4 linked regions of the Homo sapiens genome follow. The protein of the gene in region 1 interacts with the protein of each later gene in a pairwise test. Each region holds a gene or a part of one and is shown on either strand. Other genes may lie near its edges.

Region 1 (7,026 bases):
TCATGAAGGAGGCAGCACAAGTGGAGCTGTTGAAAAGCTCTCAATCATGAGGGCTGAGTCGGGGAAGAGAACAGGAGAGACAAGCCACAGAGAGAGTACAGCAGTAAGGCACTATTATGGTGTTTTGTTGTTTTTGAGACAGTCGCTCTGTCACCCAGGCTGGAGTGCAGTGGTGCGATCTCGGTTCACTGCAACCTCCGCCTCCTGGGTTCAAGCAGTTATCCTGCCTCAGCCTCCCGAGTAGCTGGGATTACAGGCGCCCACCACCGTGCCCAGCTAACTTTTTGTATTTTTAGTAGAGACGGGGTTTCACCATGTTGGCCAGACTGGTCTGAAACTCCTGACCTCAGGTGAGCCACCCGCCTTGGCCTCCCAAAGTGCTGGAATTACAGGTGTGAACCACCGCACCCGGTGACAAGTTATTTCTTGTAGGAGAAGAAAGAGACATGGGTGAATTAAAGGGAAGCTTTCTGGAGAAGTAATTTTATTGGTAGCAGTGGTGGAGGGAAGTTTAGGGAAATCTCATGCATGATAGTTAATTGTACTGCACATTTGCTGTATACCAGGTACACTTTCAGATCCCAGCAGTAGCTCCACAGGTTAAGTGGTAGTGTCATATTTCAGATGAGAATGGATCGGTGTGGAAGTTGAGCAGTGTCACTAAGGTAGCAAGGTAATAAATGGCTCAAGTGCAGCTTCAAACGTAGGTCTGCTTGACTTCAAATGTTTCTGGAATGTGGAAAGTTGAAAGTGGGTTTGGGACAGTCTTTCACTTTTGAAAACTGGCCCTTTTTCTGTCTGGAGTTCCTGAAAGGCCCTAGAAAGTTTCCTTCTGAAGCATCGTGTTGCTTAGTTTAGTTGTTGTAGTAAGTCAAGGCCCTACATGTCCTTTCTGCATGTTTCCACAGCAACAGACGATCCCTTGGCTTGAGCCAGTTGATTCTTGTAAGAATGTTAGTGCAGTAATACAGTAACTAATAAAGAGGAAAGCAGATGCCAGTGGGTCTGGAGGAGCCTTCAGACAGCATGTGATTTTTAAGGAGATGTGGGATGAGGATTGCTTCTTGTTTTGTATATGGAGTAGTGATCAAAGTCTCTCATATTCCAGCCCAGGGCTGGACTATATTAGTGGATAGTTGGTATGTCAATTGTACTATATTAACCATAATGTAGGCCTGGCCAGACTAGCCACTGTAGGATCTAGGATTTAAAACTATCTCACTCTTCTGTCTTACACAAAAATAAATTCCAGGTGGATTAAAGAGAGACATTTAAAAAGTAAAAGAAGAAAAGTGAGTATTTGTCTATCTCATAATAGGAAAGGCCTTCAGCATAAAAGCAGATACAGAAATCATGAAGAAAAAGTCGATCATGTCTACATACACAAATTAAGTTGTTCCAAGTGTTAAATACCATAAACCAAATCAAAAGAGAAACTAGGGAAAATATTTGACTATTAGAGAGCAAATACTTAGAGATCAAAAAATAGCAGGAAAATAGGCAAACTCAGAAAATTCAGTAAAGAAGAAAATCAGGTGTCGGGTATGTGATTACCTCACTGGAAATAAGATTGGCACAACAAAGCCACCATGAGTTTGTTTTTTTTTTCCATTATCAAATTAGCAAAAATTTTAAAACATGATCAAGCACAGTCCCTAGTATCAGGGAAGGTCTAAGAAATGGGGCACTTGTGCTGCTAGTAGTAATATAAACTGGTAGACTAATAGGAACAAGTGGGTAGAATTTTAGAAGTCTTTGAAATACATATCCTGGGCCAGGTGCGGTGGCTCACGCCTGAAATCCCAGCACTTTCGGAGGCTGAAGTGGGCGGATCACCTGAGGTCAGGAGTTTGAGACCAGCCTGACCAACATAGTGAAACCTCGTCTCTACTAAAAAATACAAAAATTAGCCGGGCATGGTGGCACGTGCCTGTAATCCCAGCTATTCGGGAGGCTGAGGCAGGAGAATCACTTGAACCTGGGAGGCGGAGGTTGCAGCAAGCCGAGATCGCGCCAGTGTACTCTAGCCTGGCCAACAGCGTGAGACTCCGTCTCAAAAAAAATAAAAAAATACATATCCTGGCTGGGCGCAGTGGCTCATGCCTGTAATCCCAGCACTTTGGGAGGCTGAGGTGGGTGGATCGTCTGAGGTCAGGAGTTCGAGACCATCCTGGCCAACGTGGTGAAACCCCCGTCTCTACTAAAACTACAAAAAAAATTAGGTGGGCATGATAGCTCACGCCTGTAGTCCCAGCTACTCAGGAGGCTGAGGCAAGAGAATCACTTGAACAACCCAGGAGGTGGAGGTTGCAGTGAGCCAAGATTGCACCACTGTACTCTAGCCTGGGCAACAGAGCAAGACTCTCTCTCAAAAAAAAATAAAATACATATCCTGTGATCCAGCAATTCCTTTTTTTTCTTTCTTTTTTCTTTTTTTTTTTTTTTATTTTTTGAGATGGAGTCTCGCTCCGTCACCCAGGCTGGAGTGCAGTGGCGCGATCTTGGCTCACTGCAACCTCTGCCTCCCGAGTTCAAGCAATTCTCCTCTTTCAGCCTCCTGAGTAGCTGGGATTACAGGCTCATGCCACCACCCTGGCTAATTTTTGTATTTTTAGTATATGGAGGTGGGTTTCACCATGTTGGCCAGGCAGGTCTTGAACTCCTGACCTCGAGTGATCCTCCCACCTTGGCCTCTCAAAGTGCTGGGATTATAGGTGTGAGCCACCGCGCCCAGCTGTAACCCAGCAATTCTACACCAAGAAATTTATTACAGAGGCGAAATTGAATATGCTTCCCCCATGCTTTCACTAGTTTGATAAACTTCATATTTCCAAAACTTTATAGAGTGCTTAAAAAACTACATAGGTAGGTGGCACATGCCTTAAAGTGGTAAAAGGCCACTGACAAACTATAAGAAACTCATTTTTGTACTGACATATAGGAGTAAAAGTCAACTAGGAAAATTAAGAAAAATATGAGAGGCCAGGCATGGTGGCTCATGCCTGTAATCCAATACTTTGGGAGACCGAGGCGGGTGGATCGCTTGAGTCCAGGAAATCGATAGCAGCCTGGGCAGCATGGCGAAACCCCCTTCCTACAAAAAAATAGAAAAATTATCCAGGCGTGGTGGCGCATGCCTGCAATCCCAGCTCCTGTGGGGACTGAGGTGGGAGGTTCGCTTGAGCCCAAAAGGTCGAGGCTACAGTAAGCCATGATTGGGCCACTTTGCTCCAGCCTGGGCGACAGAGCAAGACTGTCTCAAAGATGAAGCTGCAGGTCTCTGCTCACTATGGGTGATTCCAGGCCACACTTTTTTTTTTCCCTCATGCAGAATTTTCATAGAGAAACACTGTTCTCTTTCTGCTAGTCTTCCATTTGTTACCACTGTAAAATAGAAAACAGAAAATAAAATCAAAAGCTTTTGGACTTGGGAGCTTAAGGACAGATGTGTACACATTTTGGTGAAATTTGTATATAAGCACATCTTGGTTTTATTTGTTGTATATAGCACCTACCACAGGGATAGCATTTAGTAGCTCAAGGTTCATACAGCATATGATGCTGTATTCTACTGTACAACCCTTTGGCCCAGTGTTTGACCAGTCCTTATTGATAGACCAAAATCTTATGTCTTGCAGATGCTGTTGATGGAGTAATGAATGGTGAATACTACCAGGTACAGAGTACTCTGATTCTGTTCATTGATAGTGATTGAGAATCTTCCTTTCCTGTGATTTTAATTGACTGACCTAGAAAGAAACCCCAGTCCTTTGACTTTCCTGAATGTATTACTGGCTGGTGTGTTATCTACCAAAGTGGAAAGATTTAAAGAGAGGTAGCATTGATAAAAAGAGAACTGTTTAAAAATGTTATTTACCTGCCCCTAGTGTTATCACCTTTATTCTAAAGAAATCACCATTCAAATGATACTGTGTTGAGTGCAGTAAGTTAATACTAATACTTTAAATAATTCTCCTTCCATCTTTGTTTATAGTCTGATTAGGTTAACCTGGTAATATTAATATTCCTTAGTTCAGTGAGTGGCATATGGAATAATTTTGTAAAGATTAACATTTATTTGAGTCTTTTTTTTTTTTTTTTTTTTTGAGACAGTCTCACTGTCGCCCAGGCTAGAGTGCAGTGGCACGATCTTGTCTCATTGCAACCTCCACCTTCTGGGTTCAAGCGATTCATCCACTTCAGCCTCCTGAGTAGCTGGAATTACAGGCGCATGCCACCACGCCCGGCTAATTTTTTGTATTTTTAGTAGAGATGGGGTTTCGCCATGTTGGCCAGGCAGGTCTTGAACTCCTGGGCTCAAGTGACCATCCCGCCTTGGCCTCCCAAAGTGCTGGGATTACAGGCGTGAGCCACCGCACCCCGCCAGAGCCACCGCAACCTTGGCTCACTGCAGAACCCGTTTCTAACAACAATGGCGGCTTTTGTAAAATGTTAAAGGATTACCTTAAAAGCAACAACACAGGCCGGGCACGGTGGCTCACGCCTGTAATTCCAGCACTTTGGGAGGCTGGGGTGGGTGGATCATTTGAGGTCAAGAGTTCGAGACCAGCCTGGCCAACACAGTGAAACCCGTCTCTGCTAAAAATACAAAAATTAACCAGGCGGTAGTGGCATGTGCCTGTAATCCCAGCTACTGGGGAGGCTGAGGCAAGAGGAGAATTTGCTTGAACCCGGGGAGTAGAGGTTGCAGTTGGCCAAGATTGCGCCACTGCACTCCAGTCTGGGTGACAGAGTAAGACCCTGTCCCGTCCCCCCTTCCCCCACCCCAGAAAAAAAAAAAAAAAAAAGCAACCACATAGGCCAGGCGCAGGCACCTGTAATCTCAGCTACTCGGGAGGCTGAGGCAGGAGAATTGCTTGAACCCGGGAGGTGGAGGTTGCAGTGAGCCGAGATCGTGCCACTGCACTCCAGCCTTGGCGACAAGAGTGAAAACTCTGTCTCAAAAAAAAAAAAAAAAAACAGAACCAGGGGTTCTAACTCAGGTGAAGTGCATTTTAGGAAGGAATTTTTGGTATTAATATAGCACAATTGTGTTTTGTGTTAAGGAAAGTAATGGTCCAACAGACAGTTATGCAGCTATTTCACAAGTGGATCGATTGCAGTCAGAGCCTGAAAGTATCCGTAAATGGAGAGAAGAACAAATGGAACGCTTGGAAGCCCTTGGTAAGGAATCCCTTCTGTGTTTTGGTGTCTGTTTTCAGTGGAGTAGTTGAGCTGGACTCTACTTTTATTCCTTTTTAGCTCACATTAACCAGTGTCATTGTCTGGTCTTTGGGAAGATATCTTCTCAGCCTGAAGGTTACAAGGCTACCTGCACAGAGATGCCTAATCACAGGCCATTGTGTGAGGAGTAGGGTAGCCGGAGATCCCCAAGATCCTCTCACAGGAAGAGCATAGTGATGCTGCTCCTGACCTCAAGAGTAGCCTCAGGTGGTGTTTATAGAGTGCTTTATAAACTTGAAGGATTCAAGTTTCCTATGTCCGTGGACTTTAACAGTCCATTTTTCTTTTTTCTTTTTTCTTTTTTTTTTTTTGAGATGAAGTCTCACTCTGTTACCCAGGGTGGAGTGCAGTGGTGCGATCTCGGCTCATTGCAAGCTCTGCCTCCCGGGTTCACACCATTCTCCTGCCCTCAGCCTCCTGAGTAGCTGGGTCTACAGGCGCCCGCCACTACGTCCCGCTCATTTTTTTTTTGTATTTTTAGTAGAGACAGGGTTTCACCGTGTTAGCCAGGTTGGTCTCGATCTCCTGACCTTGTGATCCACACACCTTGGCCTCCTAAAATGCTGGGATTACAGGCGTGAGCCACCGCGCCCGGCCTCCATTTTTTATTTGAAGGCTAAATGAATTTAAAGTAACACGAGGAAAATGAGGTATGTTAGGAAAAAATGTACAATTTGTTTTTCCTACCTTAATATCTCTGTAAGGTAAGTTTTACAATTTTACAGGTAAGAAAAGTGGAGGAGAGGTAGAATAAGTATTTGGAATACTCAGCTAAGGAATGGTAAGAGTCACAATTTCAGCTGAAGTCTGCCTTGCTTCAAAGTCACTACCCATCCCCATCAGCCACATTGCTTTCTAAACATTTAATGTGCGTGGCCATCTAGCCACACAGCCTGGCCTTTGATAAAGAGATGTGTACGTGGAGTGTCACCTGTTGGTTCATGATCAGGGGAGACTTGTGTCTGTACATGGTGGATTGGAGAAGTATGCAGAGTGTGAGGATATAATCCACATTGTGGCCTTTTCTTTGTTTTTTCTTTTTCTTTTTTTAATCAGCTGACTTTAAGATTCATCTTTTCTCAACTTTACAGAACAATTGAAAGGAGGAAAATAAACATGTGCACCCCCAGATTCAGTAATTAATGGATTATCTTTATATAAATGATATGTTTTAGACATACACACACACAAATTGTTTTGGCTGACCTACTTTAAGATAAAGACATCATATACTTTGTGTCTAAATATTTCAATGTACACCTCCTAGAAATAATGACATTCTCCTATGTAACCACAACGTCAGCAGTATTATTCCCTCTTGGGAACTGTTGAACTAGTGAAAACATGAGTCCTTATTTTTCAGATGGGATAACTGACACCCAGAAATAGGAAGGGACATGACCCAGATGACACAGCCAATTAGTGCCAAATCATTTATCTCTCTAGTCCAATTTAGGTGGCTTTCAGAACAAAGAATGCACTTAGTATTTGAACCTTTATAGCACCATTCATTAGTGATTTCTTTGGTGGAAATATTCTGTATCTGTGCTGTCTCGTATGGTAGCCACTAACCACATGTAACTGTTAAGTACTTGAAGTGTGGCTTCACAATTCAAGTGTGACTGAGAAACTGAATTTTAAATTTTCTTTAATTTTAATAAATTTACATTGAAGTAGCCACATGTAGCTAGTAGCTACCATATTGGACAGTGGAGCTGTAGGAAGATGAAAATAGGTCCTAACAGCTTTGGTCCTTGCTTGTTCTTTGTGTCTCTTGAGTAT
Region 2 (7,606 bases), on another chromosome or scaffold:
CACCACATCCAGTTAATTTTTGTATTTTTAGTAGAGACTAAACTTGGAGTTTTGCCAAGTTGGCCACGCTGGTCTCACACTCCTGACCTCTGGTGATCTGCCCACTTTGGCCTTTTTTTTTTTTTTTTTTGTATTTTTAGTAGAGACTGGGTTTTGCAGTATTGGCCAGGCTGGTCTCAAACTCCAGACCTCAAATGATCTGCCCGCCTTGGCCTCCCAAAGTGCTGGGATTACAGGCGTGAGCCACCGCACCCAGCCAAATATTTAATATACTATAAAGCAAAATTAAATTGAAATTTTACCAAAAGGAAGGAAGTGGACAGAAATGGATTTGCACCATTCTGTCCAACCAGAGTCCTTGCTCCTAAGCACAGCATCATTTTCCTTCTCGTTAATTATCCCTTTTAACAGCAACGAAATGACCTGGCCGGCACACGAGAACACAGAGATGAGGCCACACCTTGTAATTTCTGGGGTTCTGAGGGGGACCCTGGTGGTGGTTCTGGGTGCTGCGGTTCTTTCAGTAAAGAACTTCCAGGAGTTTCTAATCAGCTGCTTTCATCAAGATTCTCATAACCTTCTCCTGCTGCCGCTTTCAAGTGGGTTTGTTCCCGAGCACATTATTAGGAAAGCGGCTATAATAACTGCTTACCTGCCTCCGGCTCCGCTCCACAAACACCCGCCAAGCCCACACTGTGCAAAACAGTAGTAACACGCCCGCCTGAGAATGGCTCCGCGGCTCCGCATTGCTGCCTAAGAGCTTTCCTGCATGTGATCTCATTTCATCCTCACCGCAACTCCGGGCCGGGGAACTCATGTCCCCGGTGAGGAAGTCCAGGCTTGAGATCGGCCTCAACAGTCGGAGGTGGCAAAGCCAGGGCTTGCTCGAAGCCCCACCTTCTCACTGTTGGGGAGCAGGCTGACTCCAAGCTGTGGAATCCTGTGCAGGGGTTATTTTGGTATCTGTGGGGTAATTTCACACTGAGGCTAAGTCACCGTTTTGGGTTCAGATGGACATGAAATTGAATCTCAGGGATCCAACTTTCTAGCAATGTACTCTGGAGCAAATTTGGTATTTTCCTCATCTGTAAAATAGGAACAATAAAAGTACCTTTTTTTTTTTTTTTTTTTGAGTTGGAGTCTTGCTCTGTTAACCCAAGCTTCAGTGCAGTGGCGCCATCTTGGCTCACTGCAACTTCTGCCTCCCAGGTTCAAGTGATTCTCCTGCCTCAGCCTCCCAAGTAGCTGGGATTACAGGCACCTGCCACCGTGCTTGGCTGATGTTTGTATTTTTAGTAGAGACAAAGTTTTGCCACGATGGCCAGGCTGGTCTCAAACTCCTGGCCTCAAGTGGTCTGCCCGCTTCAGCCTCCCAAAGTGCTGGGATTACAGGCATGAGCCACTGTGCCTGGCCAAAAATACCTTCTGGAGAGTGTTGCTGGAGTTACAGATGATATGTTATTGTGATATGGTATCAGCAACAGTCATCTCAGAAGGTGCAGCATCTTGGAAAATTTTCTTGTGTGCGCTTCATCTACTGTCTCAGATAGAGTCACTATACATTCAAAAGTACAGATCTTCCTCCACTAGCTAACAAAGTCACCTCCTTATCCTCAAGTCTATGTTCCCAGTTCAGGATGGGCCTGGGTGATGCCTCATTCCCCATGGCTCCAGGGCCTCTGATGCTGCCACTTTGTCAGTGGCTGGCTCAGCTCAGGCAAGGCCCCTCTCCCAGCTAACCATAGCATAAGCCTGAATCGATCCCTGTCTCAGGGCCATTTGGAGGATTAACTAATCCATCATGGGGGAAACCTTTGAAATGTGCCAATGTGGCTGAGGCTATTGTCAGGCAGAGCAGAAACTGAGTTTACTGGTTCCCCCGTTTCCGAGACTTTCAAGCTGGACTCACTCTCATGTGGGTGAAATCCCAGCAGGTGCAGGTTGCACTGAGCTCACCAAGCCGTCTATCTGCCCCACCTGACGCTGGATCTTTTTGACCTATCTCTGTTTCTTTAAGGGACAGTAAGGGTGAGAAGATAAAGGGATCAGGATTCCAGACACTGAAGAGCTTTTGTTTGTGTTTTTAATAGAACTGAACACATTAAATTTCCCCTTTTGGCATCATCAGTCTATGGACTGAAAACATAGTTCTGAGATTATACCTTTCCGATTTTATGTTTTGCAAATCTCGAAGGTCCCTGGAAATCTACAGGGTACATCTTTTTTCACCCTCTGAGATGTGAGCTCCATAATAATAAAACCTAACTCAGCAATTCATTGAGTTCATCACTATTTATTGAGTACCTACTCTGATCGCTGGTATACTAGAAGCACAGAAGCCTTCTTCTTGAAGGGAAAAAGAAACTCATGTATCTAGAAACACCAGGCTCTATGTGGCACTTTCATTTATTTGCCACATAAAGCCTGGTATTTCTAGATCTATGTGGCATCATTTCATTTAATTCTCACAACTCTAAGAAGTACATATTGTTCCATTTCGCAGGTGAGGAGATTCTGAAAGTTCCATAACCTGGCCAAGGTCGTTTGCATTTGCAGAGGCCAGCACTGAAGTCCAGTCCCGTCTGACTAGACCATCTGGGTCCTTCCCACTAGAATACAGTGGGGAGGAGAAAAGGACACTGATGGATTAGTCAGTCGACAGCACAGGCAGCAGATTATAAAGCTGAACTGTTTGGTTAGAGCAGCTCGGGGCTGGAGAGGGAGGGCTGGCAGGAGGACTTCCTGAAGGAGACAGCCCAGAAGCTCCTTGTAAGGACCTGAGGCTTGGGTATGGGTGGAGGAGGAAGTGTGATGTTGGCCCTGGGAGGGGAATGAATAAGAAGAGACAGTGGCAGACAGCATGCCCTGAGGTCAGCTGGGTGGAGGATGGGAAGCCCAGCAGAGATGTCTGGACCTGACGAGGTGGCAGCAGGGAGGCACTCACTGAGTTTATAACTCCAGGAGGGGCAGAAGCAATGGCAACACCCGTCACCAGGGGAGAGGATGACTCAAAGCCTTGGCTGGAAGGAGTGGTGGGTGTGGCTTGGAGCCTGCCCGGGCCAGGCAGGTGCTTTGGGAAGGGTCCAGCCAAGGAGAGTCCGGTCTTCCTCCACGCAGGGGAGGGGGAGCAGGGGAAGGAAGGAGAGACATTAACAAGATGGAATCTGTAGGCTTTGGTGCAGGACGCTTACGGGGAACACGGCTCAGGGAGTTGGATTCCAGATTGCTTTTGAAGCCTTCCCCAGGTCACATCACACCGCTGTTCCCAGCCGTTCCAGGTCTTCCTGTTGACTGTAGGATCAAGTCCATTCCCCCAATCTGACCTCAGTCTACGTTTTTGGGCTCTTTGCCCACTAGTCTCCTAAATAAGTCCTCTGCGCCCCACAAACCAGTCTCCACCCAGCCTCCAGTGCTGCCAGCCTCCTCCACCCCCACCTGGAGCAGTGACATTCATGGATAGCTCCTCCAGCGGTCTCGAAAAATGAACATTTTAGGGTTCCACTTTTTGCTGTTGGTGTCCCCCTAATGCGAACATCCTGTCCTTGAGGGCTGATTCTTTTTACAATAGTTGTCCCAACGGGGGAAGTCATTTCACCTTTCTGACTTAGTTTCCTTATCTGCAAAATGGAGCCAGTAGTGTCTCATAGGGTACAGTGCCTGCACACACGCCCATCCACGGCTGTTCCAGGCCTTTCCTCCACTGCGGGGGGGTGCCAGGGGTCCAGAGGCGAGGAGGAGGGGGCCGCTGGACGCTGGGAAATTGGGAGGACCCCAAGATCCCTGTAGGGATCCACGGTAGAGGGGGAGGGCTTCTCTGTCCTCTCTATCCATTCGGACCTCCGCATTTCTAAGAACCAGCATCGCACCATGTCACTGAGAAAGAGCGCGCACACCAGCCGCCTTTTGAAAGTCACAAATAGATTCCTTCAGTGAATTCAGGACAGACTCCCCGGGGGCAGGTCCCGGGGCGGGAGCCGGTGTGGGTAGTGCTGCGCGGCCCTTAACTGTTTACCAGGCGCGTTTCGCTGACCTCGTCTCCTGGACCCCCTTTCGTGACCCCTCTCAACACCTCTACTGGGGAGACGAGGACCCCGAGGTTCTGGGGGGCGACGCGACCTGCCCGAAGTGACAAGGGTCCTGGGCCGCACTGCTCCGCCGGGGTCTGCGCTCCTCGGCGGAGCGGGTGGGAAGGATGAGTCCTCGGGGTGGAGAAGGAGGAGCGGGTCCCCGGGTACCGCTCACCCGGCCTTAGGAGCCCGGGAGCGCGCGTAGGGACGCGGAGTTGAGGCTCTCCATCTGCGGCCAGGGAAAGGGATACAGTCCCCCGGGCCCCTCCCGGCCGCTCGGAACCCACCCCAGGCGCGTCCCCGCGGGCGCGCGCTCCAGGCGGGGCCGACGGGCTCGGAGGCGCGCGCCCGCTGCCGGGTCCGCCGCGCGCGCTCCCTCCGCTCCTCTCCCCCGCCCCTCCCGGGCCCGCGCGCTCCCAGGGTCCGCCGCGCGCGCGCCTCGCGTCGCTCCCCATCCCCGCCCCTCCCGCCGCCACCCCGCCCCCGGCCGGGTACCCTCGCCGGACCCGAGAGAGAGCGCCGCCGCCATCTTAGTTGCTGCCGCTGCCTTCAGCAAGACGCTGCTCTGAGGCGGGGAGGGCGCCGCGTCCTGAGCGCGCGGCCCAGCGTCACGGCGGCGGCGGCGGCGGCTCCTCCTTGGACCCCCGGAGCTCCCCGCGCCGCGGAGCAGCTAGCCCCAGGCCCCTAGAGCCCCGAGAGCTCCGAGAGCTCCGCTCGGCGTCCCGCGCGCCTCCCTGCCGCTCCCGCCCCGGGCTGGCGATGCTGCGCCGCCCCGCTCCCGCGCTGGCCCCGGCCGCCCGGCTGCTGCTGGCCGGGCTGCTGTGCGGCGGCGGGGTCTGGGCCGCGCGAGGTAAGCCCCGGGGCTGGGCCGGGCCGCTGGGTCGGTGCGGGATTCGGGTCCGGGTGCAGGATTCGGGTCCCGGTGCGGGGATTCGGGTCCGGGTGCGGGAGTAGGGCCGGATGCCGGGATTCGAGCCGGGATGCGGGGAGTCGGGTCCGAGCGCAGGGAGCCGGGTCAGGGCGTGGGGTTCGGGTTGGGGGTCGGGCTCGCGGAGCCGGGGCCAGGGCGCAGGAGACTGTGGGCGCGCGCTGCAGGCGTCCCGGGGAAGCCAGGCTCCGTCCCGGGCGGGGCTCCTGAGCCTGGGCTGCCCCCACTGCAGCCCATGGTGGTGGCTGCGCTGATTTGGGGGAACGTGCAGACGGGCCGAAGGGTCAGTCCGCCCTGCTCAGCGGCGCACGCAGGCTGGGGCTGCACCCCTGGGTGAGATGCTCTGTGTACGTGTGCTCAGATGTGCATCAGGCGGGGGGTGCACGCACAGTTTTGGTGTGTGCTTACATAAGAGCCCACTCCTCCGCATCCCGTTTCCAAGATCCCGATTCTGTGTTGCTGCACCGCGGACACCACGACTTCGCCCCTTTCCGCCTCCTCCCAGAGTCCTTCAGACGTTGTCTGTTTCCAGTGGAGCCGAGGCTGAAACTTAGTGCTTCCCTCCCACCTTTTCACCCAAAGGTGAAATCGCGATGAGATTTGCGACCGCGGGCTCACCCAGTGTTAGAAATCTCCGTCTCTGCTACCCCTGGTGCCTTGGTGCTGTTTTTCTGACGGTCATTTAGACCGTGGAGGGTTAGATGTTCTCTACAAAAACGAGAAACCTCTCTGGTTTTTTAGGATTGTAGGACCGAAATTATTTTATGGCTCGGTGGGAAGTAGTATTTCTTGGCTAATTTATTATTAGCTTTTAACCTTCATCCACTTAACCTTTTAAACCTTGCATGCCTCTGCTATTGACTGGTCTTGCCAACGAAAAGCTTACGCATTGCAGATACAGTATTTGCTTCTGAGTGGATCTTGAAATCGTAAACATTTTCCTTGGCCTTAGAGCAGAGTAATCTAGGTGTAGTCTGTAGAATCTACTGTAGGCTTAAATCTGTTGTTCTGATTTTTTTTTAATCAAAAGAAATTTTGGGGAGGAGGATTGATAGAAATCTAGATGAAATGGTCATATTTGAATTTAGCAAGCTTTTTAAAAATTCTTATTTTCCCTTCCCTGGCGTGACATAAGGAGAGAAGTATGGTGTTCACGAATTAAAGGGCAGAGGCGGCAAATGCATCTTTTGTTCCATGTTCCTTTCTAAACATCGAGGATGATAAACTTTGAATACTTCTTTTATTTCATTTCTAACATTCTGTTGACTCTGTCAAATTCAGATCTTAGTCACTAAGTATCTCATTGCTGGCCATTTGATTTTTAAAAGTAACATCAAGCTAAGTTTGAAATGTTCTTTCCAGATGTGGGTTGGAGGTCTGAAACTCTAATATATCCAAGAGAAATGTCAAAAGTTTTGCTTCTCTTGGGGAAAACCCACACATTTTAAAAATATGTGCTTGGATTGGGTATTTTGGGAACAGTTTAAGTATATTTAGTCAGTGATACCATTTCTTGTTAAAATTGGTGCTTTCTTAAATAGCACCTACATTTGTTAGTCATTATTTAATTGCCTTGGTTACTTAAACAGCATACATTTCAACTTTGAATATCTTCATTACCTGAGACCGACAGAAATCTTGTGTGAAAGGTGTGTTGGCTAGTTGAGTCATTTGTAATTTGCTTTCTCTAAGTTTTTCTTGGTGCAGTTACAGTAGTTCAAGATTCTTAGTCTTCGGAATAAAGACATTTTACACATCAGTTATTCGTATGCATTTTTTTCAGGTTGCAAGTTAGAAAATGTCTTGGAATTACACGAAATGCTAATAAACAATTTCATTTTGAAATATTACAAGTGAATTTCATATGTAAATTTACAGTTTGGAGACACTCTGTGGGCTCGTTTTAAGAGATCATTTCAACTAATTGAATTTTTTACGGCTGTAAGGCAGTACGACATGAACTCCTGTTCATGCTGTAGCTACCTTTAATCATTGTTAATGTTAGATTACGTACAGACTGCTGCAGAAAATGATAGATTTTCTAATATAAATTGCATCTTGACTCTTAGTTTTGTAGAGACCCTCAAATTTTATTTTAATTATAGCTGTAGTTCTCAAAAAACATTGAGTAGAGCTGGGTGCAGTGGCTTGCGCCTGTAATCCCAGCACTTTGGGAGGCCGAGGCCAGCGGATCACCTGAGGTCAGGAGTTCGAGACCAGCCTGGCCAACATGGTGAAACCCCATCTCTGCTAACTATATAAAAATTAGCTGGGTGTACTGGTGGACGCCTGTAACTCCAGCTACTTGGGAGGCTGAGGCAGGAGAATTGCTTGAACCCAGGAGGCGGAGGTTGCAGTGAGCCGAGATTGCGCCACTGCACTCCAGCCTGGGTGACAAAGCAAGACTCCATCTTAAAAACAAATTCAGTAAGCCAAAATATTAGAAGAAATATCTTTGGCATGCCCTGGACGGTCATGTCCTTCAGCTACCTGCCTTCTTCATGGAGATCGGGAAATAGAACAGTGAAGCAGAGAAAATAGAAAGCTTATATGAATATTTAAAAAATGCAACCATGTAATGCATTTCGAAGCCACTTAATACATAAAATTC
Region 3 (5,344 bases), on another chromosome or scaffold:
ATAAAGTATAGTTGGTACTTTTTGAACTTCAACTGAAACAGTGTATATAAACGATTGCTTTTGAACCTGCAAATCACAAGTTTCAGGTATCGAAGCCAAAACAGTTAACTTTCTTCAGCCTCTGGCAGATTATTAACAAAACAGTATTATTCAGATTCTATATCATATTAATAAGAATTGAACCTTGAAAGTAACATCTGTTATTCTATTAATGTGATTGTGTGTGAATGGGTCTGATGACTGTTGGACTGTTTGTAGGAACTTAACATGGAAGATGCTGACAGAATCAGATTTTGCAGGTGTTCAACCTATAGTGGCTAAGAATTATGTTTTCTATTTCATCCTCAGAATGCCATACAACAATTCTGGAATGCTGATTTTTTTTAAAGTAGGAATTAAAGTCATACACAAAATGTGGTAATTCATATGTAGATGAAATATTAAACATTTAAATGACCGAGTAAAAAACATCTATCAATTACACAAATGAACAAGAATGTGAGTTAGAAAAATGTAATAAAATATGAATTTCGAATATTTTATTAAGGGATGATTTAATTCCTGGATTTCAAAAACCTTTAAAAACATCAAACAATAAACTTTTATAAAAAAGTGACAAAATACAAGTTAAATCAGCTAGATTTTTGTGTAACCCTGCAGTTTATTAAAAAATAATACAAATGCTTATAAATTTTTATTTATCTAATTTCCTGAGGATTTTGTTTCTCCATATCAAACCCTTTCACCATGGCCAACATGAACTTTTTTTTTTTTTTTTTAAGGCAGTTCTCTGCTAGGCATTAAACTTTAAAACATTTGAATCATTAGACCATAATGCTTCACCCTAACGATATTTATATAAAAGGAAGAGAAAGACATTTTCTTTTTTTTGAGACGGAGTTTCACTCGTTGCCCAGGCTGGAGTGCAATGGCGCAATCTCGGCTCACCGCAGCCTCCACCTCCTGGGTTCAAGTGATTCTCCTGCCTCAGCCTTCCAAGTAGCTGGGATTGCAGGCATGCGCCGCCATGCCTAGCTAAATTTTTTTTTGCATTTTTAGTAGAGACGGGGCTTCTCCATGTTGGTCAGGCTGGTCTCGAACTCCCGACCTCAGGTGATCCGCCCACCTTGGACTCCCAAAGTGCTGGGATTACAGGTGTGAGTAACCACGCCTGGCTGAGAAAGCCATTTTCAATACAGAGTGTAAAATTAGATAGCCTCTATTAATTAATTAGATTTTGGAAAGAAATGCAGCTTTTTAGTTAGCATTGAGGCAAAACAGGGAACCTGCTTCTTTCCAATTGCACTTGGGTCTTTGCAAAAGTCCACTCGGCGCTGAGAAACTTTCCTGTTCACCAGTGTGAGGAGTTCTGTGAACTCTAAGGAGGAGCCATATTTTCCCAACATCTCACACAAATCTTGAATGTACCATGAGCCGTTCACAGTTTCCCGGTGAGAATAATATCCTAAAAAAGTGAGAAGGAAAATGTTGCTGCAGTTTTCTGGCTTTCAATTACTGTGTGTATTCTTTTTAGTTACAGAAGTATAAGTTCTTAAAAATCCTTAGAAGAGTCTTAAGATGTGTCCATGATATAAATGGCTTTTAAATTTTTTTGACTCTTTTCAAATGGGAAAAGAGATTAATTCTATATAGTTTTATATACACGGGGTTAATTCTGTATAATTTCTTCCATTTCCTAAAAAATTCCCAAGATAGACAATGATTGAGACATGAGATTACTAAAAAGAAGTCAAAATTATTTACTACAAAAGCAAAGAACCATTATCAAAATATTTTTCAGTTGGGCATGGTGGCTCATGCCTATAATCCCAGCACTTTGGGAGGCTGAGGCAGGCAGATCACTTGAGGTCAGGAGTTCGAGACCAGCCTGGCCAACATGGTGAAACCCCATCTCTACTAAAACTACAAAAATTAGCTTGGCGTGGTGGCAGGCACCTGTATTCCCAGCTACTCGGGAGGCTGAGGTAGGAGAATCACTTGAACCCAGGAGGCAGAGGTTGCAGTGAGCTGACATTGGACCACTGCACTCCCGCCTGGGCAACAGAGTGAGACTATTAAAAAAAAAAAAAAATACACACACACACACACGTCTGGGCAACAGAGTGAGACTATAAAAAAAAAAAACGCACGCACGCACGCAATGGCTCATACCTGTACTCCCAGCACTTTGGGAGGCCAAGGCTGGAGGATTGTTTGAGACCAGCCTGGGCAACATAGCAAGACCCAATCTCTACCGAAAAATTAAAAAGTTAGCCAAGCATGGTGGTGCATGCCTATAGTCCCAGCTACAGGGGGGCTGAGGTGGGAGGATTGCTTGAGCCTGAGAAATTGAGGCTGCAGTGAGCCATGATCATGCCATTGCACTTCAGCCTCAGTGACAGAGTTGAGACCTTGTCTCAAAAAAAAAAAAAATTAAAGCTTTCCATGACAATTACCACAATGGCACTACCACCCTCAGTAACTGATGGTAGGCTGCTAATACTAATATAATTAATTAGACTGTTGCTTTACTCAACATAACTCTCAGGAATTATTTTTCTGTAAGGTACTTTACACTTTCATTTATCACTCTGTGCCATGTGGTCAAAGAAATTCTAAGTCTGTGAGCTTCAGGATGGAATCACCATGTCCCAACCGAAAGATCTGACCCAAACCAATCAAAGGTGAAACTTACAGGACCTTAGCCAAGAGAGGCAATTATATGTTTGTTTTAAACACCACACACCTTCTGCAACAGAGTAACACATGAGGAAGTCAGCTCCAGCAGGCAGCGTGTAAACGGAGGCTGCATCCACCTCAGTTATGTTGGTGTCCAACTTCTCTGTCTGATTATCTACTACATCCAAAGGAATGACTGGCACATCGTGCTGGTTTCCCCGACATGCCTACAAGACAAGGAGGAAAAACCCACCTCTTTGCCTACTGTTTCCTTCCCAGTGCTTAATGTGTGCAGTGAATGTGTAAGCCAGTACCCCTTCATTACAACAGAAACCACATTCTGAGCAGTTCAGAAGCAATACATTCAGGTTTGGAGGGCACAAAAGCCAACAAAGTTGTTTCCTTACTTAGGCTTTCTTTTAGTTAATGTTTTAAGAAAAAATTGGCATCCCCAAGTATACATCAAATTATGTTGGTAGAAGGGTATACTGTAGAGGAAAAAGCTTGTGGTTTTAAAATTTCTTACAGATTAACCACACCCAGGGCACACGGTGTTACCTTCCCTTTTGAAAGCTATAGTATTGACCTAAGTGTTTCTGTTTAGGCAGGCAGTGTATTTCCAGATTGACTTTTGCTTGCCTGGCTGCTGCTATAAATTGTTAGGAGTTAAAATGACATCCAGCCTGACCTGAGGAGATACCTACTAATGCACCATCTTCCTTGTGTGCCCATTAAAAAGTGAGGTCTCAAATTTTTACCCACTAATTCTGACTCACTCAGAATTTACATTAAATTTAGACTCATAATTAACATTAAATTCTGACTCACTCAGAGGCTAACATTAAACTCTTCTCATAAGTGACTTTTACAAGCTGAATTGTGTTCCCCAAAAATTCATATGTTGAAGTCCTAGCCCCAATACCTCAACTCTGACTGTATTGGAAGACAGGGCCTTTAGAGGTGATTAAGGAAAATGAGGTCATACGGGTGAAACCAAATCCAACATGACTAGTGTCTTCATAAGAAGAAATTGGGACACAGACATGCACAGAAGAAAGACCATATGAAGGCACAGGGACAAGATGGCCACCTACAAGCCAAAAAGGGAGGCCTCAGAAGAAACCAATCCTCCCCACACGTTCATCTGAGACTTCCAGCTCCAGGACTGTGACGATAAATTCCTGCTGTTTAAACCACACAGTCTGTGGTACTTTGTTATGGTCACCCTATACACGAATACAGCCAGCCAATAAGATTCTGTTGTAGCATTATAAATGCATCAATCAGTTCTGAAATGGTTAAAGAATTATGAGCATCAAAAGAAAGTCCTGAATGATTTCAAATCATAAAATAAATAGAAAATCCCTACTATCCCGTTTTTATAGGCAGATTTTAATCTTCGTATCAGCAGGCTTATTTTCAGGCCTTTTTTCTACTGTCCTTCCTAAATATAACAGAACACCTTTAACCTAATGACATCACCTGCCCAGTCAACTGCAATAAGAGTAAGAGCGAGCCTTTACTGAGGGCGTGCTGTATGCCAGGCACTGTTCTAAGTGGTTTGCATTCATTAAATCAGTCAGGTGATTTTGCCCACACAACCACCCCATGAGGCAGGTGCTCTTTTTACCAAGAATCTAAGGCATAGAGAGAGAAAGTAACTTGGAAAACGATTTCATTTGTGGCTTTCTTCCCACAGTAGCTCATTAGTTATTTCCAATTCTCTTGTGTTTGACAGTGTTGGCCACTCCCCTTTTCACAAAACAATCATGTCATTATTTGTTTCTTGTTTCTCTCCTGGTGTCCATCCTCCTCAGTATCTTCCCTCTTCAGCCCATTCCTCATGGGTGCCCCTCGGTTTTGTTTTATGCTCCTTTTTCAGGCTGTATTCAACACGAGTAAACTCATCTAATCCCATGGCTTCCACGACCACCTCCTGATTTATTTCTCCAGCCGAGGCCACCTGTCTTAGGTTCTACACCTGTATGACCAATTCCATGTCCCACAGACATTCCAATGCAGTTGTCCAAACCAGAAACGAGGCAGTCATTCTTCACTTACAGCCACTTCCTCACCCCAAAACAAGGCTTTATGGTAGGATGCGAAATGCAGTTTCATGTTTGATACGGTTTGAACGTCTGTCCCCTCCAAATCTCATGTTAAAATGTGGTTCCCAGTGTGGGAGGTGAAGCCTGGTGGAAGGTGACTGGATCATCGGGGAGGGTCTCTCATGAATGGTTTAGCATCATCCTCTTGGTGTAAGTGAGCTCCCACTCAGTTCACATGAAATCTGGTTACTTAAGAGAGTCTGGGACCTCTCCCTTGGCACTCTCTTGCTCCCACTCCCAACAAGTCATATGCTGGCTCTCTGTCACCTTCCACCATAATTGTAAGCTTCCTAAGGCCTCACCAGAAGCAGATGCCAGCACCATGCTTCCTGTACAGCCTGCAGAACTGTAGGCCAATCAAATCTCTCTTCCTTATAAATTACCCAGTCTCAGGTCTTTATAGCAATGCAAGAATAGACTAACATAATGTTATTTCATGTCCTCCATGCTATTCATGGAAATACAGAATTGTGACACTGGCATGTCAGGTTTCTCTTTTGTAGTTCAAAATCTTTGGCCGGGCACAGTGGCTCACGCCTGTAATCCCAACACTCTGG
Region 4 (7,725 bases), on another chromosome or scaffold:
GGTGGGTATGCTCCAGAGAAGTAAGGCAAATGGCCCAGATGACGACCACCTGGGGTAGACCCAGGGTCTCCAGGGAATGGCTCGGGGGCAGACGCTGTGTCTGTGTGTGCAGGATCTGCCCCCACCAGCAGGAAAGGGGCAGGAGGGAGGCAAAGAGGAGGTGCCCAGGACTTGTACCCTGGCTGCCAAGCAGGGTGGGGTGTTTTCATGAGGATTGCTTTTAACCAAAAGTCCTCAGCCTTCTGCAGACCCAGGGCAGAGGCGAGTTGCTCTACATCATGTGCTTTAAGTAGAGCCCTTTGCCAGCCAGGAGGCCCAGCCACCCCCTTCCCTGCCCTGTGGCTTTGGGGGGAGACACAGAGTCACCTCAAGGCCCCAGCCCACTCAGCGCACGGTGCACACATCCAGGATGCAGAAGCGTGCGCGGCAGGTGGGGCAGGGCACGCGGCTGGCCAGCCAGGTGTCAGGGCGCAGGGGGTCCTGGCGGCTGGCGAACCACTTGCCCATGCAGGTGAGGCACCACATGGGGCGGCAGTAACACTGCTGGCACTCGCCTGTGGCTGCCTCCTGGCAGGTCTTCACCAGCTTCACGCTGGCACGTGTCTGCATGCAGCCTATGCAGGCCTCCAGCTCCTGCGGGCAGGTGGAGCGTCACCAGGAGCCCAGGCAGACACCCGTGGGCACCCACCCATCCACCCGGCCCTGGCCCAGGCCCCCCACCTGGCTGCTGGGCACTGAGTAGGCCGGGTTGACCTCTACCAGGGAGGCAAATGTCTCCAGGAACAGGTCGCCCAGGCTCTGGTGGATGACCACATGGGCTGCCCTGCGGATGGGTGCCCGGAGCTTCTCGCAGAGCTCCCCGTACTCAGTGGAGTTCAGCCTGCAGGGAGGAGAGCTGCTGGGCCCCTCTGCAGGGCAAAGGGAGCGGAAGATGGAGGCTACACCCCAAGGAGTGACAGGGCAGCTGTCGCACCAGGACCAACCAGGAGAGATGGCCCTAAGGCCAGAGCCCACGGACCCAGTGCCAGACAGCCCAGCCTGGGCACGGGACGGACCTAGGAGCAAGGCAGCTGTCCAGCCTGAGGGCTGCACTGTCCTGAGTGCTCCCCAAGAATCTGGGGGAGGTGGCTCCAGGGAGTGGAAGGGGAGGCCAAGAGTGCAGGGGGACCCGAGGGAGGGCTATGCGGGAGGGCTCAGTGACTGGTGTCTTGTGGACACCTTGCCTGGTGTCACACAAGCCCAGGAGTGTTGGAGTCCACACCAGCTACACCCAGCACCTCCCAGGGGTCGTGGCACCAGAGCCTGGCTCTGGCCTGCCATGTGCCCTCCGCAGCCCCACAGGCACCACACTCTTACCAGATGTCAAAGGCCTGCACAGCAGGGTTGGTGCTGGCCACACGGATGGTGAGGAGCTGCACGGGCAAGTTCGAGTCTGGCGAGAGCTCATGCTGCCGAGACTCCGTCACAGTCAGGTGCACGTCCTGCTGCTGGGCCACGTGCACTCGGTAGGTGGTTACCTTCATCACCCACGTGTCTGTCACAATCACACGGGCACCTGGTGCACCGGTGGCAAACTTGTCAATCCGCCGGAACTCAGTGTTGACAGAGGAGGCAACAGCCTGCCAGCCAGACTGTGGGAGGGCGTAGAGGGCCAGGGTGCGCGCCAGTGGGTGGCAGGCCCACCGGTCACGGGACCAGTAGTAGATCAGGATGCAGGCGATGGAGGGGAGGGTCACGGCCAGCAGCAGGAAGAGCCGCCAGGCCTCAGGGGCCTGGCTGAGGGCGTGGAGCCGCTTTTCTGAAGCCGCAAGGCACATGCCCACATAGTAGCCTGCAAAGGACAGGGTGAGCCTCAGGGGAAAGTGAGTGGCAGGCCGCTGTCCACCCCCCGACAGCCCTGGACCTGGCCCTCTGCCCGGGTTCCAGGGTCAGCTCCCAGGGTAATTGGGCTTTACCCACTCTGCACTTCCCCAGCCGGCCACTCTCTCCCTGCCTGTGGCAAAGGCAGGATATATTAGCGGAAAAGGTTTTTAATTTGCTGCTTTAGTTTCACACAATACGTAAGTGTTGAAAAAACTACAAAAGCCTAGAAAGGGAAAAATAAACACAATCAGGTGTCACCTCAGGCAGAGCTGACCCCTGGCCTGCCAGGGCAGCTGCCTGGACAGGATCTCAGTCTCTCAATCTCACCCGCTCTGAGGAGGCTGATCAAATGTGGTGCATCCCAGAGCTGAAAAGTTATGTGCGAGAAAGGAAGCAAGTCTCAAAGAATGATGGGACATGTCCAGAGGACACGGAGCCAGCTTCAGGGCCCTGCTGGCCAGATCGAGGACAATTTGAAGGTCCAAATAAGCCATGGAGATGGTGAGGAGTTGCACCAGCAGGTTCCAGTTGGCAAAAAGTAATAGTCCACATTTGGAGTTGGCCCAGTCACTGCATTTCAAGGTAACATGACATATAACAATAGGTAACTAGGGGCCGGGTGCAGTGGCTCACACCTGTAATCCCAGCACTTTGGGAAGCCGAGGCGGACGGATCACGAGGTCAGATCGAGACCATCCTGGCTAACACGGTGAAACCCCATCTCCACTAAAAAATACAAAAAATTAGCCGGGCGTGGTGGCGGGCGCCTGTAGTCCCAGCTACTCAGGAGGCCGAAGTTGCAGTGAGCCGAGATCATGCCACTGCACTCCAGCCTGGGTGACAGAGCGAGGCTCCGTCTCAAAAAGTAAAAATAAAAATAAAACAGGTAACTAATACCTAATAAAGCTTGAAAACTTTCAAACTAAGTTAAAAATAAAAAGAGCTTGACATCCGACTGTGAGGCCAGCTGTGCTGTCTGCTCCAGGTGTGGCTGCCACAATTCACTTGTGGTCCCTCATAGGCCTCTGGGGAGGGTGCAGCTGGAAGGGCTACAGAAACCCACCCAGTAGCCCTAGAAAGTGGCCTGGTCAGGGCCCCAGCCCCACTCAGCCCCATCCATCTCTCAAGTGGGCCCCCAGCCCACCCTCTCCATGAGGCAGGCCTGGGCGCCTCCACCCGACACCTGCCTCCAGTTCTTCTGGGCCCAGGCAGCTGCATCCTCAAACCAGGATGTGGAGGGTCACCCCTCTTGTATCCCCAGAGTGGCAAACCTGGCCAGCCACTGGCCATCTGTCCTCCCAGGGCTGCGTCTGCCCCCGTGTCCTCCAGAGGTACCCCCTTGAAATCCCCCTCCAGCCACTGCACACCCCACCTCCCACCTGTCCGTCATCCAATCAGCTGAGAGAGGGACCTTCCAGAGCCCCAGCTAGCACCTGGGGCCCAGCCCAGCACCCCCCTGGACAACTCTGAGCGTCCCACCTGCACTGCACAGAGGCCCTCCCCAGCCTCTGCCCCTGTGGCGCCCCCAAACTGGAACTGCCTCCAAATCCGCCTGTTCTCTCCACACCCACCTTCCAAGGCCTAGTGCAGTGCCACCCTCCACACAGCCCCTCCGACCCCTTCCGTTGGACTCAATCAACAGTTGCCTTCTCCTGGCCACTGCCCCCAACCACGACAAGCAAGGGCTGCTTGGCCTTGCAACCCCCAGGCACGTGACGGTTCAGGACTTGGTGGGCCGGAGCATCCCTTGCCCAAGGTTCTGAACTTGGGTTCCCGTCACCTGCAAGTCAGTGCCGGCGGCGCCCCTAAGCGCGCTCAGCCCACGCCGCGGTCCCTCTGGATGAGGACCGGCGCCTCTCCCCAGCTGCGCCCAGGCGCTTTCGGGGCCTCGGGGAGCTGGCGGAGGCCTCCTCCTGACCTCCCAGCAAGCCCTGCGCAGGAGAGGATGCGGCCGGCCGGCCCGAGCAGCCTCACCGAGCGGCAGCAGCGAGTGGCACAACAGCGTGGCGGCCGTGCGGCGCAAGTGGAAGGGCACGAAGGCGGCGTCCTCGCTGCCCAGCCAGCCCGACAGCAGGTTCTGCACCGTGAGCCCCGCCGCGTGGAACTCGTTGGGCGTGAACACGAAGCACACGGCGAACACCAGATAGGCGAGAGTGAAGGTCACCTCGGGGCTGTCCATCGCGCAGCCGCCGGGAAGCTGTCGAGCTAGGCCCCCGCCCCGGCGCGCGGACGAGGCCGCAGCGCCCAGTCCCGGACCTGTCGGTTGCGGCGGCCGCCGCCCGGCCGCCCGCGGGGCACTCTAGGACATGGAGTCCCGCCGCCCGGCCGCCCGCGGGGCACTCTAGGACATGGAGTCCCGCCGCCCGGCCGCCCGCGGGGCACTCTAGGACATGGAGTCCCGCCGCCCGGCCGCCCGCGGGGCACTCTAGGGCATGGAGTCCCGCCGCTCGGCCGCTCGCGGGGCGCTCTGGGAGATGCAGTCCCCGTGCGGGTGCGGCCTCTCTTCTCGGCCGGCCCTGGAGGCGGCACCGCACCTGTGCATTGAGCACAGGTGGGGAAACTTAGGCCTGAGCGAGGCCCTGGCCATGAAGCCCCGCCCAGTAGCGTCAGTTGCGGAACTCGAAATTCATGGGGCGACTGCGAGCCCGGGGTCTCAGCTTCAGACACCCTGGCGTGCCCTCCACTCCGGAAACGGAACCGTCGGCGCCCGAGCGGGGGGTGGGGGGGGAGGGAGGGCGGAGCCGGCGAGGCACAGCTTCCCATTGGACGCCCGCCCTCCTGCGGTCCTGCCCCCGGCCGCGCGCTGATTGGCCGCGCGAAGGCAACCGTCGGCGTTTGAAACTCCGGCGCGCCGGCGGCCATCAAGGGCTAGAAGCGCGACGGCGGTAGCAGCTAGGCTTGGCCCCCGGCGTGGAGCAGACGCGGACCCCTCCTTCCTGGCGGCGGCGGCGCGGGCTCAGAGCCCGGCAACGGGCGGGCGGGCAGGTAGGAGAGCGGCTACACGGCGCGGGGAGGCTGGGGTCCTGGGGGCGCGAGGCCGTCCCGCCCCGCCCCGCCCTCGGCCCTCGCCCTCCCGCCCCGGCCGCCGCTTTCCCCGGGAAGCGTCCCCCACGGCTCCTCCTGGGGCCGCCGCCAGAACCTGTACCGCGCCCTGTCATGGGACCCGGCCCTAGACCGACCGCCGGGCTGGGCCCCCTGGATGGTGGCCAGGGGCGGCTAGAGCTGGGCCAAGACCGACGGCGGAGCGGGCGCCCCGAGGTGCTTTGCTCTCCTCGACCCTCTCCTGTCTCTCGGTCGCCCACCTTGGCTCTTTGTTGGCTCCCAGCACGCGGACCCTCCTGTTGTTCTTTGGTCCCTTCCGGCCTCCGTCCTGGGGCCAACTCCATCTAGGCCGCCTGCGGCGGACACCTGGGCCCCTACCGCTTCCCCGCACCTGCTGCGCCGCTCCACCTTCCCCCCGCACCGCATCCCTCTTGTGCACCAGAGTAGCACCAAAGCACCAGCCTGGGGCCGGTCCCTTCTCTGCCCAGAGCCCCTCCCGGGCCTCCATAGTCAGTAAAGGCCCCTCCTGACTAAGGCTGGGTCTGCTGCTCTCCCGAGCTCCTCCAGGCCGCCAGAAGGCTTCCTCCGAGTCACTTTCTCCCTGAGTTCGAGGCTTGCGGGTCCCCCAGCGATCCAGCACCCCTTCCCCTGCCCTGTACCCAGTTATTCAGGGCGAAAACCTAAGCGTCGTCCGTAAGTCCCATATGTGCCAGTGGCCAGGCCCGGGTCTGGTCTGGCATCTACTCCTTGGGCTCCAGAAGCCTGTGGTTTCCCTGCTTCCCTTCTGCTCTTAACCTCCCCACCCACACACAGCACCACAGTGGGCTTCTCAAGCTGCAGCACCGACCTGCCGGGGCTGCCCCCTCTCTCTTCTCCAGGACCCTCCCCAACTTTGCTCTTCTTCAAATCAAAGCCTCCCCAGGTCCCCCTCCACCACCAGGTGCCTGTGGGGTTCCTGCCCTGGTCGACACTCGGTTCTCTCTGGCAGCCTTTTTCCCTACGTCATTCCCTAGACTGGGAACGCTGTAGACAGAAAGGGTGGCAAGTGTGTGGGTGACCGGCGTGAGGACCTGGGCAGCCCTGGAACCTGGGACTGACTGGAGGCTCTGATGTGGAAGTTCCTTGGCACCTGTTGCTCAGCTCTGGGCTTCCCTTGTTTGCGCATCGTCTCCCAGCTCCTCCTCTGGGCCTTCACCCTCTCAGCCTGGTCTTGTCCCGCTGCCTAGCCCGGTGGGAGAGAGCAGACCAGAGCCGCTGTCCTGCTTTTCTGCCCTCTACTGCCCGGTCCTGCCTCACGTCACACGCAGAGGCCTGTGGGGAGACCAGGGCTTCCTCTGGCTCATCCGGGTTTCTTATTGGCCCGGGCTTTTCCGTCTCTTGACTTCTGCTTGATATAGTAATACAGCAGTAGAGATTATGCAGGCTTGGGTTTTCTTTCTCACCATCTCAGCCTGAAGGCCCTTTAGCTCTTGGTCCCAGGAAGCAGCAGTGCTGCCCATGGCTCCCCCTGCCAGGCTGGAGAGTGAGTCTCTGAAGCAAGATGGGGACTCAGTCTGAGGCTTTCTCTGCCAAGAGACACGTGTGGGAGGTGTGAGTTCCAGAGCAATGAGCACACCTGTGTGGGAAGTGGTCGTGCCCCTTGCAGCAGCTGTCACGTCTGTGTCTGGACAATGTGGTAGTGTTGCCCTCACACTGACACAAACATGTTCTGCTTTTCCAGAATGAGTCTGCAGGTCTTAAACGACAAAAATGTCAGCAATGAAAAAAATACAGAAAATTGCGACTTCCTGTTTTCGCCACCAGAAGTTACCGGAAGATCGTCTGTTCTTCGTGTGTCACAGAAAGAAAATGTGCCACCCAAGAACCTGGCCAAAGCTATGAAGGTAAGTGTGACCTGTACAGTGTGTGGCTGGCCAGGTTGCCCTAGGGCCTGCTTTCTTGGTGACCTCTGAGCTGCAGGACACTGCTGGTGTGGCTGTAACAGCTTGAACTAATGAATAGGTGCTCTCCTCCTCACTCCGCAACAGGTGACTTTTCAGACACCTCTGCGGGATCCACAGACGCACAGGATTCTAAGTCCTAGCATGGCCAGCAAACTTGAGGCTCCTTTCACTCAGGATGACACCCTTGGACTGGAAAACTCACACCCGGTCTGGACACAGAAAGAGAAGTAAGTGTTGGTGCTGCTGGACATGCTGGAGCTTCACCCTCTCTGTCCGATGGTTCTTGCAGGAAAGTGCTGTCTTGTTCTATCAGGCCTTGGCTGGATTTTTTGTTTGTTTGTTTGAGATGGAGTCTCGCTCTGTTGCCCACGCTGGAGTGCAGTGGCGCGATGTCCGCTCACTGCAAGCTCCGCCCCCCAGGTTCATGCCATTCTCCTGCCTCAGCCTTCCAAGTAGCTGGGACTACAGGCGCCTGCCACCACGCCCGGCTAATTTTTTTGTATTTTTAGTAAAGAAGGGGTTTCACCGTGTTAGCCAGGATGGTCTTGATCTCCTCCTGACCTCATGATGCGCCCGCCTTGGCCTCACAAAGTGCTGGGATTACAGGTGTGAGCCACCACGCCCGGCCGGCCTTGGCTGGATTTCTCCTGAAATCTGCACTGAGTGTATGCAGCATATGGCCAGTTCACTAACAGAAAAGTCGATCATCAGATACTTGGATAACTTCATACTTCACTTTTTTTTTTTTTTTTTTTTTTTTTTCTGGAGACAGAGTCTGGCTCTGTCACCCAGGCTGGAGTGCAGTGGCTCGATTTCGGCTCACTGCAAACTCCACCTCCCAGGTTCATGCCATTCTCCTGCCTCAGCCTCCCGAGTA

The links.
Region 2: the proteins of CLTA (region 1) and CLSTN1 interact in binary tests that used the Homo sapiens proteins (3 or more experiments, as listed by UniProt).
Region 3: the proteins of CLTA (region 1) and CASP6 interact in binary tests that used the Homo sapiens proteins (3 or more experiments, as listed by UniProt).
Region 4: the proteins of CLTA (region 1) and TACC3 interact in binary tests that used the Homo sapiens proteins (3 or more experiments, as listed by UniProt).

What each region holds. Positions count from the first base shown.
Region 1 is NC_000009.12:36,193,913-36,200,938, forward strand, and holds part of CLTA (clathrin light chain A), read left to right. Parts: intron 1-3,638; coding exon 3,639-3,676; intron 3,677-5,066; coding exon 5,067-5,184; intron 5,185-7,026. UniProt on the Homo sapiens protein: Clathrin is the major protein of the polyhedral coat of coated pits and vesicles.
Region 2 is NC_000001.11:9,820,954-9,828,559, reverse strand, and holds the start of CLSTN1 (calsyntenin-1 isoform 1 precursor), read left to right. Parts: upstream 1-4,594; 5' UTR 4,595-4,826; coding exon 4,827-4,917; intron 4,918-7,606. UniProt on the Homo sapiens protein: Postsynaptic adhesion molecule that binds to presynaptic neurexins to mediate both excitatory and inhibitory synapse formation.
Region 3 is NC_000004.12:109,688,104-109,693,447, forward strand, and holds the end of CASP6 (caspase-6 isoform alpha precursor), read right to left. Parts: intron 2,907-5,344; coding exon 2,747-2,906; intron 1,466-2,746; coding exon 1,227-1,465; 3' UTR 525-1,226; downstream 1-524.
Region 4 is NC_000004.12:1,716,796-1,724,520, forward strand, and holds the start of TACC3 (transforming acidic coiled-coil-containing protein 3), read left to right. Parts: upstream 1-4,725; 5' UTR 4,726-4,848; exon of another isoform or gene 4,849-5,121; intron 5,122-6,625; 5' UTR 6,626-6,626; coding exon 6,627-6,788; intron 6,789-6,906; exon of another isoform or gene 6,907-6,932; coding exon 6,933-7,075; intron 7,076-7,725. Other genes in the region: TMEM129 (E3 ubiquitin-protein ligase TM129), read right to left, coding at 385-633, 721-880, 1,357-1,831, 3,838-4,042. UniProt on the Homo sapiens protein: Plays a role in the microtubule-dependent coupling of the nucleus and the centrosome. Involved in the processes that regulate centrosome-mediated interkinetic nuclear migration (INM) of neural progenitors.